Regions from separate parts of the Homo sapiens genome. Here regions 1, 2 and 3 are each linked to region 4. Evidence: fine-mapped expression QTL. A gene starts in region 4. Each other region holds a variant in brackets. All regions are shown on one strand. Distances are between the middles of the regions. Region 1 has its middle 150 kb from the start of TMTC2. Region 2 overlaps TMTC2 (transmembrane O-mannosyltransferase targeting cadherins 2). Region 3 overlaps TMTC2 (transmembrane O-mannosyltransferase targeting cadherins 2). Region 4 holds the start of TMTC2 (transmembrane O-mannosyltransferase targeting cadherins 2).

Region 1 (5,039 bases), 150 kb before region 4:
TGGTCTCAAACTCCTGACCTCAAGTGATCAGCCACCCTTGGCATCCCAAAGTGCTAGGATTACAGGCATGAGCCACCGTGCCCAGCATATTTATACCTTTAAAAGAGCAATTATAAGTTTTTTCTTGGAAGTATCCATTGCCCTATTATAAAATTGCCTAAATGTTATGTTTCAGCACGCCAGTCTTTTATTCTCACTTCTTACCTGGAGTAGCCCCCGAATTTCATCATCGTTTTAGGACACAGGGTGTATTTTGCTACTACTTTCCCATCTTTAAAACAAGTAAGTGGACAAAACTAAATAGCTCCCCATCAAAATATAGATTAATAAATTCAGTCCTCTGGGCATGTTGCTTTATGAAATTGGTAGAAAAAAAATATTTGATAAGGAAGCCAAACTTCAATAAAAAGCCTATAATTAAAAAGCTTCCTATCACAGTATTCAAAGAGACAAATACCATTTATTTGTATTCAGGAAACTGACTTCTTTCATTTCAGCCCATCAAGAATATAATCTGATTTCAAATGATTATGTATTAACCTATGGTAAAGAATTGCTATTCTTTTGAGTAAAGAGGGAAAAAAATAGCATCCCATAAAGTATACAGGTAAAAGGCATTTGGAAACTGTGTATTCTTTTCACTTACTTGAGGAATGGTTATTCATTTGCTTTGGGAATTAACTTATTTAAGAATAAGATAGAGGTAGAGGAGATTTGGGAATGGAAGAGACTAAAAATCTCCATTTTAGGTCTAACATTTAAGTCTTTAATCCATCTTGAATTAATTTTTGTATAAGGTGTAAGGAAGGGATCCAGTTTCAGCTTTCTACATATGGCTAGCCAATTTTCCCAGCACCATTTATTAAATAGGGAATTCTTTCCCCATTTATTGTTTTTGTCAGGTTTGTCAAAGATCAGATGGTTGTAGATGTGTGGTATTATTTCTGAGGGCTCTGTTCTGTTCCATTGGTCTATATCTCTGTTTTGGTACCAGTAACATGCTGTTTTGGTTACTGTAGCCTTGTAGTATAGTTTGAAGTCAGGTAGCATGATGCCTCCAGCTTTGTTCTTTTGGCTTAGGATTGTCTTGGCAATGCAGGCTCTTTTTTTGTTCCATATGAACTTTAAAGTGGTTTTTTCCAATTCTGTGAAGAAAGTCATTGTTAGGTTGAAATGCAAATCAAAACCACAATGAGATACCATCTCACACCAGTTAGAATGGCGATCATTAAAAAGTCAGGAAACAACAGGTGCTGGAGAGGATGTGGGGAAATAGGAACACTTTTACACTGTTGGTGGGACTGTAAACTAGTTCAACCATTGTGGAAGACAGTGTGGCAATTCCTCAAGGATCTAGAACTAGAAATACCATTTGACCCAGCCATCCCATTACTGGGTATATACCAAAAGGATTATAAAACATGCTGTTATAAAGACACATGCATATGTATGTTTATTGTGGCACTATTCACAATAGCAAAGACTTGGAACCAACCCAAATGTCCAACAATGATAGACTGGATTAAGAAAACGTGGCTCATATACACCATGGAATACTATGCAGCCATAAAAAATGATGAGTTCATGTCCTTCATAGGGACATGGATGAGGCTGGAAACCATCATTCTCAGCAAACTATCGCAAGGACAGAAAACCAAACACGCGTGTTCTCACTTGTAAGTGGGAATTGAACAATGAGAACACCTGGACACAGGAAGGGGCATGTCACACACTGGGGCCTGTCATGGGGTGGGGGGAGGGGGGAGGGATAGCATTAGGAGATATACCTAATGTAAATGAGGAGTTAATGGTGCAGCACACCAACATGGCACATGTATACATATGTAACAAACCTGCACGTTGTGCACATGTACCCTAGAACTTAAAGTATAATAAAAAAAAAATCTCTGCTGAGATTTAATTGTGCAAATATAACCAGAAAAGAATTATAAGTACGGATGCAATTTGATTCTGCCATAGACCCAGGTGTTGAGCAACTTTTACTCTAGCAGGTATCTAAAAAAGGAGGTGAGTCCTCCAAGATCTATAAAAATGAGGCATAAGGGCATGGGTTTTTTGTGAAGTTCTGAATATTCCATTAGCATGTAATAAGTGTTAATAAATATCATCTGTAAAGTTTAAAGTGTTCATTCTCAACTCTGATTTCAAATTATGTACTTCATATGGTTGCTTGATTTCAGGAAAAGTAATTTCCAAGCTTGATCTGATACTTTTGGCTGAAGTATAACATCTAGGCAATTTCCTCTGTTGGAAAGGAGCCATTTTTATACTTAGCATATAAACAAATTATTTTTAGCGAAGGCTTCTTTTTAAAAATTTGTTCATAGCTGTATGTTGTAAAGATAACTACCAGTGAGTATTTGTATTTTTACTGAACATAGTGTCTAGATCTAGGAAAACACAAAGTGAAGTGATAGTTTGATGGTTATCAAGTGAATTTATGTTCTGGTTGTGGTTTTGTAATCACTTTCCTGTGCAAATACACAACCAGAATGCAAATTCTGGTTGTGGTCTAAGACCTCGTAATGCTTCATGAAAACAGAATGGTCAAGTATTATACATTTATTCTCATTCCTTATTTACCCGTAGATATTTGCAAGATAAATATATGGAAGACGTATCAGGAAGAGGTCTCTGATTCCTTCCTCTCAGTGGCTGTTATACAGAAGAAGGGCAAATCAGTTATCCATTGTCACAATAATGCTGCATAAAAAACACAGCACTTCAGTGGAACATACAATAATAAACATGAACTTATGAGTATACGGATTGACTGGTTGGTTCTGAAGTTCTGAGCTGGGCTCTGATGATCTCAACTGCGTCACTTATGCTTCTATAGCCAAATGGAAGGTCAGCTATGCTTCTGCATAGCATAT[T/C]ACATCCAACCAAGTAAAGTGATCTAGGATGGCCCCATCAGGGAAAACTCTGCCCACCACCAAGTTTTCCTCATTTCCCTTTAACAGGCTAACCAGACTTGTTTTCATGGTGGTGGCGAGAATCCAAGAGCGTGAGTTATAAGTGTACAAGGCCATTTGAGGTCTAGGACCAGAACTGAATTTCTTTTATTTGTGACATATTCTTTTGTTCAAAACAAGCCATAGGCTACCCCAGAGAGAGTTAAAGGCTGGGAAACACACTCCATATCTTAATGGAAGGAACTGGAATGTCACATCTCATAGTGAGTAGATACAGAAAGGGTTGGAAGTTAGGATATTTTTGCAATCAGTACACCATATAGAACTTAGGCCAACAATCTTTGTGGGGGACTATGTCTTAAAGCTGCATTTTGCACAGCAAGCACTCTGTTTTTATTTAGATTGTACATAATATGAATGGTGGTGTGATGCTATCTTTTTAGTGCTATCACGGTTGACACTATTTGGTATCATAAAGCACAGTGGAAATATCAGATAAACCAGTTCAAGTTTTTGGTATATTTTAATGGTTTAGAACTTCATTTACCTCAGTAGGTGTCTCCACTTACCACTAGCCTAATGTCGTGAAATCCTCCCTTCGATTTGTTCTGTGTACATAAAAGTGAGGACTTTTAAACAAGTTTTCCATGGAGATTATAATTAATGTCCCTATTTGACTTATTTGTATATATGCACACCCCTATCACTAATTGTCCTTGTGTAACCGAATGCAGTTTCAACTTCTCTCTGCTTGTAAAACTGAGTAACAAAGAAGAGATGCGGCAGAAGGCAAGTGACTTTACTTCCCAAGCTAGCAGTGGGGAAATGGTCTAGGCTTCCTGCCTTAAAGAAATCATTTCAAATTTGGGGGCAGAAATCTAGCATTTAAAAAGGGAAGCTTCATATGAAGGGAATGCAAGAGGGGAGAGGAGGTACAGGAACACATCACTTACTCCAATGCTTCAGCTTGAGTTATTGTCCCATTTGGTGAATGAGGTGGTATGGAATTTCTCTCTCTCTCTGTCTCTCTCCTCTCTCTCTCTCTCTCTCTCTCTCTCTCTCCCTCTCCCTCTCTCCCCTTTTCTCTTCTATCAGTTATACATTCATCCTTTTTATAATAGCAGCACTTTGATTTTTCTATAGGAAATTGCCCCTCCTTCTTTTCAGGAATAAAGTTAGAGGTGTTTGTCCTTGCCTTTGCCCTTGTCCCCATCCTCATTCTGCAGGACCACCTTATGGGGTAGGTTGGTGAGGTTGTAACTGAGGTGTGCCACTTCACCCTTTGCAGCATTCTTTCTTCCTATTAAACATTTCTTTTTCAAATCTATACTGTTGTCGGTAAATTCTTACGAACCGGCAAGTCGACCACTTCCTGATGCCGGGGTTCTGACACCTCGCCCAGCAATTGGAAATGTTTTCTATCTCTTAAAATTGGAGAACAATAAAATATATATCCCTTACATTTTACTACATATTTATTTTTCCTCACTTGCAAAAATTTGCAGAATGTTACTCTCACTCTAAGTTCTTATCTGAGGAATGTAATTAAAAATTCTTACTTTTAAAAAATCAAAAAGATACTGAACATTTGGATAAGTGAACAGTCATAGGAGGTGCCTGAGTGGGGATAGTGGTGGAGCATATAGTATTTGTTCATATCTGTTGACAGTAAAAAGAAGCTAAAAATAGTAGAAAGAGCATAATCTTTGAAGTTAGACAGACCAGGGTGCTAATTCTAGGTCAGCTGTTTACTAGCTTATGGCCTTAGCAAAATCACTATTTCTTAATCTTAAAATGTAATATATAACATTCTTCATACCAATTCTAATGAGAATTAGAGATAATAGGTAAAGTACTTGCCATGTTGTAGATGTTCAATAATTTATAGATACTATCATTACACATGTAAGTAGTAAATAAATTAACTTTACCTTAAGAGAGGGCTAGACTTTGTTTCCACTTGACTCTTGGGAGAAAACATCTGAACTGGAAATTCTTAAGTGATAGGAATGTCTTTGTTTTTCACAGTGGATCCCCTAGATTTGTAGTTTATGGTAATGAGGTGACTCAGGGTGAGCCCCTAGATAGTTTATGCTAACAAGA
Region 2 (5,039 bases), 260 kb after region 4:
TTACGCTAACATGGAAAGTGCAGGCTGATGTGCAGCAGAATTTCAAGTAAATTAATTTCAATTTTCTCAGAAGGAGGTTTTGCATTATGAAAAAAGTTTCTTATTTCTCTGCTCCTGAAGAAAAATGAACAGATGTAAATTTATTTGTGTAGTTCCAATCAGTCCTCTGCAGATTTCCAATTACTGTGAGTTAAGAATTATTTCCTAGACACACCAGGAAATATAGTAATATTGTCTTTCACTTAATTTACTTTCTTTCTTGTACAAAACCTAACTGTGGTTTCCCCTATATGATGGAAAAGTTACTTAAAGTGTAATTGAAGTTTGAAGGACATCTGGATATTTAGATGATAGTGAATTTAAAAAATGAATGTGTCATCTGCTGCTTATTTTTTCTTACATATTATTTCTACTAAATAATACATTATTTCTATAGCTAAATTATATCACTCATTTCTTTCAATTCTTTGCTTCAATGTTACTCTCTGAATGAGGCCTCCTAGCCAATTCTATTTAAATTAGCAACCCATCTGCCTCTCTCAGACTTCTGTTCCCCTATACTTTATTCTTTAAAACATTGCATGTATTACCTTCTAGTGAACTATATAATTTACTACCTATAATGACAAATAATGATATTAAAATTAATGTAAACCTAGTTTACTTTGTATATTGCTAAAATGTAAGCTTCACCAAAGCATTGTTTTTATATATATTCTTAGTGTCTGCAATAGTGCTTAGCATATGTGTTCAATAAATAATAGTTGCATGCACATTGATTTAGGTACATATGTTTTCCTTAAATTCCTCATGTGTGAAGGGTGTACATAGATTACTTTAGAATCTTTCCTTCTCTCTTTCTCCCTTCTTCTCTCCCATTTACCCCTGCAGAATTAAAGAATACCTAAGGATGCCCTTTTTGCTTCACATCTCCATTGCTTTTAATCATTGTGCCTCTCATTTCATTTTGCACTTAGCGACCCTATTGTTACAGATGATAAGCTGAGGGTGTTTCATGGCACAGGGTTTGGGTAAAAGTGATGCCATCTTGCTATTCTGATAATAAGGAGGACAGTGTGAGGAAATGTCCAACAGCCATCTAGCAATAGAGAGACAGATGGAGCCTTGTTCTAGAAACCACATGTCATCATCAGACTCAGAGAGTAGGCATGCACTTTTCTTTTCTTTTTTTTTTTTTTGAGACAGAGTCTTGCTCTGTCGCCCAGGGTGAAGTGCAGTGGCGCCATCTCGGCTCACTGCAAGCTCCACCTCCCGGGTTCACGCCATTCTCCTGCCTCAGCCTCCCAAGTAGCTGGGACTACAGGCGCCCGCCACCACCCCGGGCTAATTTTGTGTATTTTTTAGTAAAGACGGGGTTTCGCAGTGTTAGCCAAGATGGTCTCGATCTCCTGACCTCGTAATCTGCCCTCCTCGGCCTCCCAAAGTGCTGGGATTACAGACGTGAGCCACCGCACCCGGCCCAGGCATGCACTTTCTTTAACAACAGAAATTTCTGGTTAGAACAATCCAAGTTGTCTTAAGTCTACAGGGTGACTGGGTTTTAACTGCACTGTTATTCTAAGGACAGCCTTTAAAAGATGGTATTGTGTTTGAGTGTGTCCCCTGTACATTTGCCTGTTTGAAATAAAATTTCTTTAGAAAAAAATCTCTAAATCTTCAAAGACCAACTTTAGTGTTAGGTGCAAACCTGGGCTGCAAAGTGTGTACTCAGTCTCCTGAAACTGGGTGTTGGAGCAGAGTGCAATTTTTTTTTCTTTTTTTTTCTTTTTTTTTTTTTTGAGACGGAGTCTCGCTCTTGTCGCCCAGGCTGGAGTGCAGTGGCGCGATCTCGGCTCACTGCAAGCTCCGCCTTCCGGGTTCACGCCATTCTCCTGCCTCAGCCTCCCGAGTAGCTGGGACTACAGGCGCCCGCCACCATGCCCGGCTAATTTTTTGTATTTTTAGTAGAGACGGGGTTTCACCGTGGTCTCGATCTCCTGACCTGGTGATCCGCCTGCCTCGGCCTCCCAAAGTGCTGGGATTACAGGCGTGAGCCACCGTGCCCAGCCTCAGAGTGCAATTTTTAATCAAAAGCAACAATCGATGGCTTGGAAAAATAAGCAAGTTGGCCATTTCTTACGCCCTGTTTTTTTGTTGTTGTTTTGTTTTGTTTTAAAGAAAAGTCAAGGGAAATAAGACCAGTAGCCTTATTAAATATAAGGGTAGAATGAATAGAAAAGAGAATAGAAGCAAGTGCTGCTGAGTGTATTTGCCAGTTTTCTCTTAATTTGGCATCTTGATCCCCAGACCTCCATCATTCTGTCAACGTCTCTCAGCCCTTTTTCTCCATTCTTCAGCCTTGTCTACCAATTTGGCTCCTGCTTCCATGACTGAAGCCGCTAAATGATGCCTATGGCAATGAATTGCTCCTCATTCTCTATGACCACTGAGTTCAGTGAAGGGGGCCATTCCTTTTCTGCACCAAAATTAAATCAACAAATGCAACTTTAGAAAGATTGTTACAGGCCAAGCTCAGTGGCTCACATCTGTAATCCAGCACTTTGGGAGGCCAAGGCACGAGGGTCACTTGAGCCCAGAAGTTCAAGACCAGCCTGGGCAATATAGTGAGACCTTGTTTCTATTTAAAAAGCAAAAATAGCCAGGCCTGGTGGCAAATGCCGATAGTCCCAGCTACTTAGGAGGCTGATGTGGGAGAATTCCTTAAGCCCAAGAGACTCAGGCTGCAGTGAGCCATGCTTATACCACTGCACTCCAGCCTGGACAACAGAGGGAAACCCTACCTTAATTTAAACA[A/AC]AAAAAAAAAAGATTGTTATGAATAGTGTTTTTCTTCTAATTCTGAAGTATTCAGGATAAACCTTCAAGTGAATTGTTGCTAAGTTGAAAAATCTATTCCAAGCAAAAAAATATATATATAGCTTCAGACTTTCATTTTTGGAACTCATCTTCCTTATTTTTAACTTAGAAACTGCTTGTATGACCTAACACCTATTCCCGCTGGTCCATAAGATACATGATACCTTTTCCCCTTTCATAATTTATTGCTTTAACAGCAGACTTTCATTAGTGCACTGCTGTTAAGGGACAAAGAAAACACCCACTTTGTTGAACATTTATGTTTAAAGTGAGTGCATTGCACTAAATCTCTGTGTGCCCATGGGGTCATCTCTAACCCAAATTATAACCATATCTGTGATGGAATCTTGCCGTGAAGCTTTTTTTTCTTTTTGTAATTTTTTTGAGTGTGTTGATTTCTGTAGAATTCTCAAAAGCTATTTTTTTTTTTCCTTTTTTCTTCCCTCTGCCTGAACAAACTTGTTTAAGTTAGGTTTTCTGGCTGTGGACTTCCATAGTGTATCATACTATACCAAAGCATTCAAAGCATATCAACTCAGCATTGGCGCTGCTTTTTAAATAATTTATCTTTTCTAATCATTAAACCTCCATAATGGTACTTTCAAAATATGTTTTGAATGAATAAACAAGTCAGTCTAACTACATTGAGTTTTACTGAGCAAGAAAGGTTTTGGCCTATGCTTGTATTCCAGCGTAGGAGTTCCTCTGCAGTGGTTACACACTCTCCAACTGATAGGTGTTTCTTCTCCAAGAAATTACATAAAGATTAGACGTCCATGTTGGATAGCACCTGCAAATAGCAAAGAATAGATAGTAAATCAGTATATAGGTTTAAAGTTAAATCATTTGTGGTTAGTGCCTTTAACTTGTGTTAGATGCTTTTCATTTCTTAATTTTGTTTGTTTTAAATAAAAATTCTCCCAGAGGATGAAGGAAATACTTGAAAGAGATTTGACTGTGATTCCAGAAGATATATATGGACTTACCAGAGTCATATTTGTTTTCATGGGAAGGGTAATGGGGAAAGGGGAAAAGTTGCTTTTTTAAAATTTTTTAAATTAAATTATCTGGCAACCTTGTACTTTGGAGGCAGCTCAGTGAAATACTTCAGAGCATGTCTTTGGCTTTAAACAGACTTGGCTTCAAATCATTCATTTATTGGTCCTGTGTCTGACCTTAGGCAAATTATTTAATCCTTATTCTTCATCTGCAACATTGGGTTGAGTTGCATTATATAATATAAGAGACGTTAATATAATGTCTAGAAATTTGATATAATTATATGATAATAAAATCTGAAGAGTTTGTTAGCTGGTAATTTTATTCTATTTCTTAGTGTTCCCTGGCTATGCCATTTTGGGGCTATGTCTTATCTCACTGGCAACCACGTCCATGAAGAGGAGTGAGTCCAAAGCACAAGAGTAACTCAAGGAAACCCCTTTATAAGTGTATTGGTTGTGATGCATTTCTTGGTAAAATAGAGGTTGACTGTCATTGGGAGGCTGCAGTTTATCTCACGATGCAAATTCAAGATGCTTACATGTTGGGAAGTGCATGTATAAATAAGAAAAGAAGAGAAATTTGTTGACTGAGATAATTAAGAAGCAGTGTGTATATGAACCAGAGAGAAAGGGCGGGTATTAATACTAAGCTAAAAGCAGTCACCTATTCCCAGTGTTGGTGATTTGAAGCCTGATACCTCTGAATTTGAATCTCATCTTGAGTCTTGACAGCTACATTATCATGGACAAATTATTTAAATTCTCCCCCTTCATTTTTAGACTCTAAAGTAAAAAGAATAATAATTGCTATTGCTAATTGCAAGGGTGGAAAGAAATAATATGAAAAACTTAAACCCCAAGTATTAATCTTTATTACTTCCTGTTGAGTACTGTTTTTAAACTAGGAAAATATATTCACACCTATTATTTTGACATGTGGAAGAAAATGTAGTCTTAGTTATATATTCAAAAGGTAGGTACAAAGTAAATTATGCATATATGAATATACAATGTAGTTCTCCGAATCCTAGATCCAACAATAACAACTAGCTGCATAGACTTAAGTTGCTTAACCATTCTGATCTTTGAACCCTTCATTTTAAGATAAGGTTGATACCTTTATGGGTTCATTGTGAGAAATACATAATAGTTGTAAAGCGTCTT
Region 3 (5,039 bases), 220 kb after region 4:
TCAATGATCTTAACCTTATAGAATCAGGTTAGGAGCATTACTTCTTTTTCATTCCCTCAAAGATTTTATGTAAAATTAGAATTATTTTTTTCTTCTATATTAGGTAGAATTTACCTGCAAAACTAGCTAGGCATAATGTTTTGGTTATAGATGACTCTTTTTTTTTCCTGTTGATTTAATTTCTTTCATAGTTTTGGAAAGAGCCAAATTTGCTTTTGGGTCAGTTTTAGTAACTTTTTTCTCTGTGTTTTGTTCAATTGGTACAATGTTACACATAATATTCTTGTAATATCTTTCTAAAAATCTCTGCTACAATTGTAGTTTTAAAAGTGTTTTTGCTTGGATACTCTTCAGGCAACAGATGTAGTATTGCCCCAAACTTTGTGAAGGTGGACCTACGCATAAGAATTCCCAAGGAATATTTTTGCCTATTTTCTGTTTGTCCAAATAGGCCAAACAGTCACCCATCTTTTCATTCTCTAAGTTTTTTAAATTTTTTTGTTGCTAGTTAAGTGATGAAGTCTGTTTCCTTTCAGGCAGATCACAGTTTATGTGGCTTCTGCAGTGTGACCTCCTGCATGAAGTTCATTAAAGCCTAAACCTAGGTTTATCTGTTTGACAGATCTAGTGTATGCAAGGTGAATACCATCTTCACAGCTAGTTTACTTTTCTGGAGTCCTGCATTCATGAAGGTTTTTGTTTGTTTGTTTTTGAGATGGAGTCTCACTCTGTCGCCCAGGCTGGGGTATAGTGGTGCGATCTCGGATCACTGCAACCTCCACCTCCCAGGTTCAAGTGATTCTCCTCCTTCAGCCTCCCAAGTAGCTGGGATTACAGGCACGTGCCACCACACCCTGCCAATTTTTTTGTATTTTTAGTAGAGATGGGGTTTCACCATGTTAGCCAGGACAGTCTCATTCTCCTGACCTTGTGATCCACCCGCCTCAGCCTCCCAAAGTGCTGGGATTACAGGCATGAGCCACCGTGCCTGGCCTCATGAAGTTTTTAGACTTCAGGTTTGCCCTTACTTTCCAACCAATTAATACATTCATTTGCAAATATTTTTATTTTTAATGTAGCATTTTTATTGGTTCTGTACAAGGTGTGATTCTCTGAACATAGAGTTTCACTATACTGTCAGAAAATGAGACCTATGAAATATCTTCAAATCTGACACCTATTAAGGAATGATTAGCTATGTTAGAAGTTCTATTTGAGAATAGAGTTAAGATCAGAGCTACTATTTTTGAAATATTTAATTCTCTTTCAGCAAAAGAAAACTTAAAAGAAGCTAAAAATATGTGTAAAAACACTATCAAATTACAGGTATTTGAACCCTCTAAAGCAGGGTAAAATATGTTCCTTCCTTTCTGTAATATAGATACAATTGCTGATATTGTTAAAGAGCAGATTTTCGAGAGGACAAACACCTGTCTTAGTTTTAGCCTTATCACGCACTGGTGCCTATTTCTGGTGATCATGGATTTTGAAGAGAATTCCAGATAAGTCTCAAGAAGTTATGGAAAAAATTGAGATATTCAAGTCATATAATTATTGTAAAAGGATTTGATGTAGAGGAAGTGTGAGCCGTATTTTAATTTTTATGCATGTGGGCATTAAATTAGAAATCTTACTGAAATGGGAAAATTTCCCCTGTCCCCCTCACAGCGCGTGTGAAGAGGGTGTGGCTCACTTCTTCTGATCAAACCTCTAGGGGAACATACGGACAGGCAGGCTCCAACCCCAGGCTCCAACCCCACGGCAGTGCCTAGGGGGTGAATGTTTACAGCTACTGAAGCCCCAGTGGGCATGTTACAGTATGCTCCTTTAGTTTAGCCCTCTATAGGCGGCTTGTGTTAGCTCAATTAGACCCCCTTCCTTATCACAAGGACAGAGGGATTTCTGTATCCCAGGGTTTCTTACCTTGGTGTATCAGAAGAATCGGATTACATGTGGGCTTGGAGAATGAGTGGAAGGTTTGATTAAGAAGTAGCTCTTAGCAGA[C/T]GGAGGGCCAGAAGGGAGATGGATTTCCCATGGAGTCCGGCTGCTCCCCAGCCTGGGCTCTCCTCTGATTGCTCCGGCCAAACTCTGCCTCATTTGGCTGGTGGATGTCCTTCTGGTATGCCCCTGTCTGTGTCCAGCCTCTTGTCATTTTCTGCAGATGTGTTCCTCTTGCCATCCAGCAGCAGCTTCTGTGTGTCTGCCTGCTAGGGTCTCTGGGTTGTTTTTTTCTTTTTTTTTTTTTTAGAGACAGAGGCAGAGTCTCGCTCTGTCGCCCAGGCTGGAGTGCAGTGGTGTGATCTTGGCTCACTGCAACCTCCACCACCCGGTTTCACGCCATTCTCCTGCCTCAGCCTCCCGAGTAGCTGGGACTACAGGCGTCCGCCACCATGCCCGGCTAATTTTTTGTATTTTTAGTAGAGACAGAGTTTCACCGTGTTAGCCAGGATGGTCTCTATCTCCTGACCTTGTGAGCCACCCACCTCAGCCTCCCAAAGTGTTGGGATTGCAGGTGTGAGCCACTGCGCCCGGCGGGTCTCGGGTTTTTACAGCCCCAGGGTTTGGGTGTGGGGGGGCCAGGGTGGTCTTGGAAAATGCAACATTTGGGCAGGAAGGCAGGAGTGCCTGTCCTCCCCTAGGTCTGTTGGGTGGAGCCCTAGCAAGGAACCATGCCCTCCTCTACCCAGCCCTTCCCCCACCCCCGCCCACCTCCAGCCTCTGTGTCATTTAAAGGGACCACTCTCTTCCCTTCCCAGCACTCTGTTATCATCATCACTTGACCATGGCTTCTCAGTGTAAATTTCTTTGCAGTTTTAACATTATCATCCAAGGGGATCTAGGAGGGACATAAATATCATGTGCTTGCTCAAAATGAAATAATGATCAAACATATTAGACGTTCTTTTTTAAAGAATGATAATATTGTTTTCTAAGTATAAGCCGTATTCTTATTTATTTTTTTCTTTTCTTTTTTTGAGATGGCGTCTTGCTCTGTTGCCCAGGCTGGAGTACAGTGGCACGATCTTGGCTCACTGCAACCTCTGCCTCCCGGTGCAAGTGATTCGTGTGCCTCAGCCTCCCCAGTAGCTGGAATTACAGGTGTGCGCCTGTAATTAACCATGCCTGGCTAAGTTTTGTATTTTTAGTAGAGATGGGGTTTTGCCATGTTTGCTAGGCTGGTCTCAAACTCCTGTCCTCAAGTGATCTGACCGCATAGGCCTCCCAAAGTGCTGGGACTACAGGTGTGAACCACCTCGTCCAGCCCATACTCGGATTTGGTTAGACAGTACCTAGAAGGAAATTTAGAACAACAAAAACATCATCTTGAGAGCAGAACTGTATTGGAGGTTTTATTTTGTCTTGTATTTAAGGATTCTAATTCCCAATAATACCAGCTGCCTCTCAGCCCATTCTTTCAGTGATCTTAAACAGCATAATTCAGTTCCTTTTTGCAAAACACATAAGATATTAAAATATCAGCATTAATATCTTTTTTGGAAGCACTTTAAACATATGTTTTAATTATGAAAAATTTCTCTGTAGACATTTTAAGTGTAGAAAGAAGGAACTGGGTTAGAAATGTAATATATCAGCTCAGAGTCAAGTTTTGACAAGAACAGATTACCCAGGTGTCAAAGCATGGCGTTTTCTTCTTAAGATGCCTGGAATAGCAGAGGAAACTTACAGTCGTTTAATATTTGGGGCTCTGTGTAGGAACTTGGAAGTCATATCATAAAGAAATGTGATTTTTTTTCTGCTCTTCTTACCTCTCCTTGCTTAGGATAAGAGAGTAAATATCTCAACTTGTATTTCATGAGACTACCAGCAAAGACCACAAGGTCTAAGATATTTTGAAATGTTTTCCTTTTTCACCAAGTCAGTTGACTTAATCTCTTTGAGATTTGCAAACAAGTTTTGATGGTTTGCAGTACTGGTGTTGAGTAATCTGAATATTTTCCAAAGATGATGGCATCATGTTACCTTCACAATTGTGGTTAAGAATGAATGGTGGTTGGGTGCAGTGGTTCTCGCCTATAATTCTAGCACTTTAGGAGGCAGAGATGGGTGGATCACTTGAGCCCAGGAGTTTGAGACCTGCCTGGGCAACATGGTGAAACCCTGTCTCCACAAAAAATTCAAAAAATAGCTGAGTGTGGTGGTGCATACCTGTAGTTGCAGCTACTTGGGGGGCTGAGGTGGGAGGATCACCTGATCCTGGGGAGGTCGAAGCTGCAGTACGCTATGGTCACGCCACTGCACTCCAGCCTGGGTGACAGAGTTGAGACCTTGTCTGAAAAAAAAAAAAAAAAGAATGGGTGGTAATATTCATATTCATGTAAATATTTACAATAATTTTAAGTTAGAAAGGAGTTTCTGTGCTTGCATAATGAAAACATTAGTATATTACGATTACTGTACAAACCCATGTATTCTGCATTTTTCTTATCTCTAATCACAGTGATAAATTTAAAATTACTTTTTGTTCTTGAAATGCTATTATTTGGAAGCAACAGTACAGAATTTTAAAATTTCTTTTGCCATTACACTTTAGCACAATGATTTTGAGATAGTTTTTGAGGGCAGTTGATGAAGTCACTAAAGTCCTAATGCCATGCTTCTGTTCTCTGTGGTACCATTCCAGAAGCAAGAGGCTGTGCACTGCTTTGGGCAGAGGACCATCATACTTTGGTTTTGGCTTTTGCTGGTTCTCAGCTCATTCTCACATTGAGCCTGGAGCAGACATTTACTTTTGAGGTTTTAAGTTAAAAATTAGGGTTTAAAGAAGTATATCCTAAGACCCAGTTCTGATTATTTGAAAGGAAAATGTGGCTTCTCTATGAGTTTTAATCATCCTGACATGTCAATAATCTGACAAGATTATTTAAAACTCATGAATAGAATATATGGCTTTATATCTAAGACCACACATCTAGTCATATTTTTTAATTGGTAATATTCATTAATCACTGGTTTTGACATATTTCCTGATTTTTCCTCTATCTTACTTAACCCTCTGGGTACTAGCTTCTTTTTAATAC
Region 4 (5,000 bases):
ATCTTTTTAAAGTTTCTTCTCCGTGTCCAGATGTTATAGGCTCTGGGTTTTATGTGGAAAAGAAGACTGACAGGATCCCTGACCTCATGGAGCTTCCACTCAGTGGTGCTTCCAGATACTAATACATACTATGAAGAAACTAATACATGGTGGTTGGATAGAGATTGATGGGGGAGAGCCTACTTTATTTCTGAGGTTATGCCATTTGAGCTAAGACCTGAATGGTGAGAAGGAGCTAGAGAAGGTTTGAGGAGAAGAACCTCATGCAGGAGGAAGAGAAAGTGGTTAGTTCCTGAGAAGGATGTCTGTGTTGTACACATATGAACACAACATGAAGCGGGAGGGGTAGTCTGGGCTAAATGAAGGCTTGGCTGGCCATGGTAAGAATTAGTTTTATTAGCTGTAAAACAGGAAGTTGTTGGACATTTAAAAATACAACAGGAAGTTGTGGAACATTTAAAAATTGGGAATGTATAGGTTTTCAAAGGAAACTTCTGCCTAAAGTTAAAATTGGGGAAGGGAGGCATTGCAGGGGTAGAAGTACGGGGACCACTTAGAGGGCTACTGCATTTGTCTATGCAGGAGATGAGGGCAGCTGGGCTGTGGACTCAAGTAGTAAAGATGTGATAGGATGTGTTTTGGAGGTAACTGTCCAGGTTTTTGTTAACAAGTAAAATGAAACGAGGAAGCTAGAAAGCATAGTAATAATGATATACTAGCTAATACTTCTGTAGCACTTTCCTGGTCCCTTTTAGATATTTTACATAGGTTAACTACTTTAATACTCATAATAACAGTACTCATAAGATAAGTACTATTATTATCACTGTTTCATAGATTAGAAAACAGAGTCACAAAGAGGTTGAACGACTGGCCAAAGATCGCCCAAATAGTAATAGCAGAGTATGCACTCAAACTTAAACATCTGATCCCACAGTATGTGTTCTTCCTTCAGTGTTCTAGGACACCATATACATATTTTATATATACTATATATATCTCAGCATGTAAGTGCATTGGAGAGACACAGAGCATCAGGATGGACTAACTGATATGATTTTCAAAATTTTCAAGTGAGCAAAGGTTATGGAGGAAAAGGGTAAAAGATCAGTCCCTACCTGTAAAGACATAATTCCTTTTATTTTTGTTTACATATATTTGTCCAGGGCACAAAAAATGTGCTACTGTGGATGGCATAACAGGTATAATATTAATAAATATTCATCATTTTATCTGTGTGTATCCAATACAGATTTCTCAGATTTCCTTGTGAAATCAGGGAAATATGTAGCTTTGTTCTACAGAAGCCCAGACCACGGTATTTTCTTTCCAGGCCACTGCTAGACACCCAGGGGGCTCAATTTCTTGCCACAGTTTCGGAGAGCTTGCTGGTTAGGTGCTGCTCTTGGTTGGAACCAGTCGGCCCGCATGCAAAACAGACCTGTCTTCCACACCTTGTGGTTACTATGCAGCAGGGGGCGCTGCAGTAGTGTACATCGCGGTGCACCGGAGCTACTCTCCTGGCCAGAAAGCCAACAAGCCGGGAGGAGGCGTGTCAGGCAGCCCTGGGTCCTCTTTGGTCTTGCAACTTTAGTACCCAGAGCTTGTTCTACACAGACCATTCTACACCATATTTCACCATGTTGGATGCTTTCCATCCAGTCCTGCCTCCGAGCGGAAAGGAAAGGGCATTAGCTTACTGCCTTACTAGGTTTAAGTATAATGCTGTACCGGCTTGCACTAGAGGTTTCTCTCCTGTGTTCTCAGGGTCAACCCGACAGTCCCTCTGAAACCACGAAGGGGTCCCCGGGCAGTTGCTGCGGGGTGTGTGTGTGTCTTTCTTTCCCTTTTTGGGGTCCTTTCTTTTTAACCTTACTGAAGGAGGAAACGTTTCTCTCCCTACACGTCTTTCCACTGACATTGTGGCCAACCGTAGGCTAAGAGCTGAAATCTCTCCTTCCTAAGTTGCCTCCAAGCTCTCCAATACTACCTCCTCCCCCCCATTTAGTCTCACACACAGTGTGCGTGAGAGATCGCCAGTGAGTTTGTGACAACCGAAGCTGCAGCAGTCGCCAAACCTGTTCTTCCTCTCCCGGTCTCAGAAGTCTCTCCAGCTGACCGGACTTACGCCTGGCAGCTCTTGGCACACACAGCGCTGTGGCTGAGATTCAGCCGTGCCAGGCGCTGCCAGGCAGCAGCGGGGCGACCGACCACCTCCTCCTCGACCTCCTTTCTCCCAGCTTCCCCTCCCAGGGTGCACTGTATCTACTCCTTTGGGCTGTCTTCCAGCCGTCGCCCTTGGGTCCCGGGGGCTTTCCAGAGTGAAATCGAAGGTGAAAGAAACAAGAGGACGGGAGGCTGGTAGGAGGAGCCTCCAGGCCGGGGAGGGTGGGAGGAGCCTCCAGCCCGAGGGGCAGGGTAGGAGGAGCCTTCCGGGAGGATCTGGGTGGAGAAAGGGGCTGGGCCAAGCCGGGATGGAGGGTTGGTCACGCAGGCGCGGGGGGCCGCGTCGAGAACCCCACGCGGGAGCTTCTGGAGTCTCCAGCCACCGCTTCTCACTTCACTGGAGAAGGGAGCTGGGGCTGGGGCTGGGGCTGGGGCTGGGAGGGAGCTAATAAACATTGAATGTGCAGCAGCTGCCTTGGCGGCCGGAGTCCGCCCGAGCGACACCGGAGCAGTGCGCCCGGGAGGCGGCGAGGGGAGGCGGTTCGCCTTGTCCCTCCCACCCGCGCCTCTTTCTCTCTCTTCCTCCAGCTGGTCCCAGAGCCCGGCTTGGTCCGGTCCCTCTGCCCCCATCCCGCACCCTTCCACCTCCTCCGAGTCCCACTCCTCACCTAGGACGCCCCAAACTGCCATGGGTTAGGGTGGGGATCGCGACCCGCGCGAAAGACCAGCCCTGCGCTTCCGCCGGGGGACGCGGAGCCCAAACGCCGCTCACCGCTTGCGGGCGCCGGGCATGGGGAGTGTGGTGTGAGCCCGCACCCGGGGAGGACGCAGGAGCTGCGGAGACGGGCGCGAGGAGGAGGAGAGGAGTCGTGGATTGGAAGGACCCGAGGGAGGGAGGGTGGGGAAGCGAGGGAAAAGTGAAGCTGGGAGGAGAAGGCGGCGGAAGGTGGAGATTGATGCTTCTGTTTTTTGTTGCCGCTGCTGCCCTCGCGCTGGGAGCCGAGCCGGAGGGAAGGCGGTGGAGAGATGATTGCAGAGTTGGTGAGCAGCGCTCTGGGGCTCGCCTTGTATCTCAACACCCTGAGTGCGGATTTCTGCTATGATGACAGGTAAGGGGCCGAGAGGAGGGGGCGACGGGCTGCAGGGGGCACACTCCGCAGTGGCTCTGAAGCTTCCCTCTTTAAGGCTCAAAGTGCGTCTTGGAGGAACTGGTTCAGCACCTGATGGTTTAGGCGACACGTAAACATTAACACCTAAATCAAACACCGGGGACGTGAGGCGCGCTGGGCGGGCCGAGGGAGTTTCCGCTCCTAGTTTGCAGCAGGTTCTCTCCCTTGCTTCTCGGCTGTTGGCAGACGCTTGAGTTTCTTAGCGGAAATCCCGGCAATTTGGGAAACTGTTTAATGAACGTATTAAATTAAAGTCTTAGGTATTCCTTGATGCAACAAAGCACATTAAGTGATTTTACGTCTGGTTGGGAGGAAGCCTCTCCTCGATCCCTGATAGATCCTCCCTGTCCCGTTTCCTTTTATTGATGGGACACTTTTATTTCCCGAAGTTAAAACACACGTTTGATAGTTGCCAAAATTGTGAAAAGGGAGATCGTTCTCTGCTTTAACTTTCCCTTTTAACGTGTATAGACTTTTACTTTGAGCCAAAATAATGCTGCTGATGGTCTCTCCCGCCGCCCTAGCCTCCTTCACCAATCCATTGGGCAGCACTTTATAAAAGCCTCGGCTTTCTCATTTCTGTTTGGGAGTTGTACATTAGATGTTAGTGGTTCTTTTGTACTAATTGGAGAAGAAGACGCCCCTAGAGACTGAAGTTGTCTTCTGCACTTAGGTTAGTTTGGGTGGCTAATGAGACCTGAACTGTGTTGTCAAAGAAACTGCATCGATTTCTGGAAAATGTCACCGTTGTGTTGGTGTCTCTTCCTATCTTTTAAACGTTATTAGTGTTCAGAAAGTGATGAAAAGCCCCTATATCCATTAGGGAAAATTCCAATTTGTGTCCTTCCGGTGTCTTAATCTGATTACAATTAAAACAGATGCATAATTAAAATATATTAGGGATAACAGCACGCCTGGCTAAACTTATTAACCGTCCTGGGGTGTTTCATGCTCCATTGAAATTAAACCATCCAAAAAGTGAGCACAGATTTACTTTGACAGCTTTTCAGCAGCCTCTCTGAGCTATGAAAAGTGAATGGATCCCCAGGGTTAGGGCGAGGCAGTGAGAGCACTTACGCAAAGTGGTTGACAGTGAGGGGAGGTGAAGGCAGAATCTTCTTCTCGTCGTAATTAGCCACATTCTGTATTCTCTGGTGTGCCCATTCTCCTGCTAAAAGCATCTTCACATCTCTGTTAAAAAATCACCTGATAATAGGTGCCAGAACATCCAGCAAACCCGTCTTAATGCATTTTATGTAGTGCCTACCAGAGGCTAGTTGATAGGGAACCACTGTTAGACATACATTTTTTCTTAACTTTTACGCAGCATACTGATTTTAGCAACTACACAGCATGCTCTGAGAAATGGTCTGTAGGAGTGAGGTAAATTTCTGTTCTCTCCAATTTTGTGTAATGGTGCACCTGCTATTTCTAGCATATTCGTGGAAAAAGCCCTTGTTTCCAAAGATGGGTGACTTTTCACTAAAACCAGCTTGGGTCAGTGTGGGCAGTTACTGGCTCTGTTGGGGGCGGTTTGAATAGTAAGCATTTAAACCAAGAATATAGAGTTTATTTAAAAAAAGAAACTTACTATAATAATGCAACTTGATGGGTGACTTTTCACTAAAACCACCTTGGGTCAGTGTGGGCAGTTACTGGCTCTTG

What was found. PIP is the estimated chance that this variant, and not a neighbour inherited with it, causes the effect.
Region 1: its variant is the best candidate, but not a certain one, in a credible set for the expression of TMTC2 in tibial nerve (GTEx, PIP 0.86).
Region 2: its variant is the best candidate, but not a certain one, in a credible set for the expression of TMTC2 in whole blood (INTERVAL, PIP 0.51).
Region 3: its variant is the best candidate, but not a certain one, in a credible set for the expression of TMTC2 in cerebellar hemisphere (GTEx, PIP 0.82).

What each region holds. Positions count from the first base shown.
Region 1 is chr12:82,531,270-82,536,308 of GRCh38, forward strand. No RefSeq gene overlaps it. Among named protein-coding and RNA genes, the nearest start is that of TMTC2, 150 kb to the right of the region's middle. RefSeq lists a silencer at 1,538-1,742. The variant T/C (reference allele first, on the strand shown) is at 2,898.
Region 2 is chr12:82,945,561-82,950,599 of GRCh38, forward strand. The region is part of intron 4 of TMTC2 (transmembrane O-mannosyltransferase targeting cadherins 2); the gene reads left to right. Among named protein-coding and RNA genes, the nearest start is that of TMTC2, 260 kb to the left of the region's middle. The variant A/AC (reference allele first, on the strand shown) is at 2,815.
Region 3 is chr12:82,908,646-82,913,684 of GRCh38, forward strand. The region is part of intron 3 of TMTC2 (transmembrane O-mannosyltransferase targeting cadherins 2); the gene reads left to right. Among named protein-coding and RNA genes, the nearest start is that of TMTC2, 220 kb to the left of the region's middle. The variant C/T (reference allele first, on the strand shown) is at 2,005.
Region 4 is chr12:82,684,395-82,689,394 of GRCh38, forward strand. TMTC2 (transmembrane O-mannosyltransferase targeting cadherins 2) reads left to right here and starts at 2,512. Exons shown (of 12, transcript NM_152588.3): 1 at 2,512-3,275. The coding sequence starts at 3,193. RefSeq lists silencers at 1,463-1,542, 2,393-2,492, 3,063-3,112, 3,473-3,532 and enhancers at 1,973-2,122, 2,143-2,352.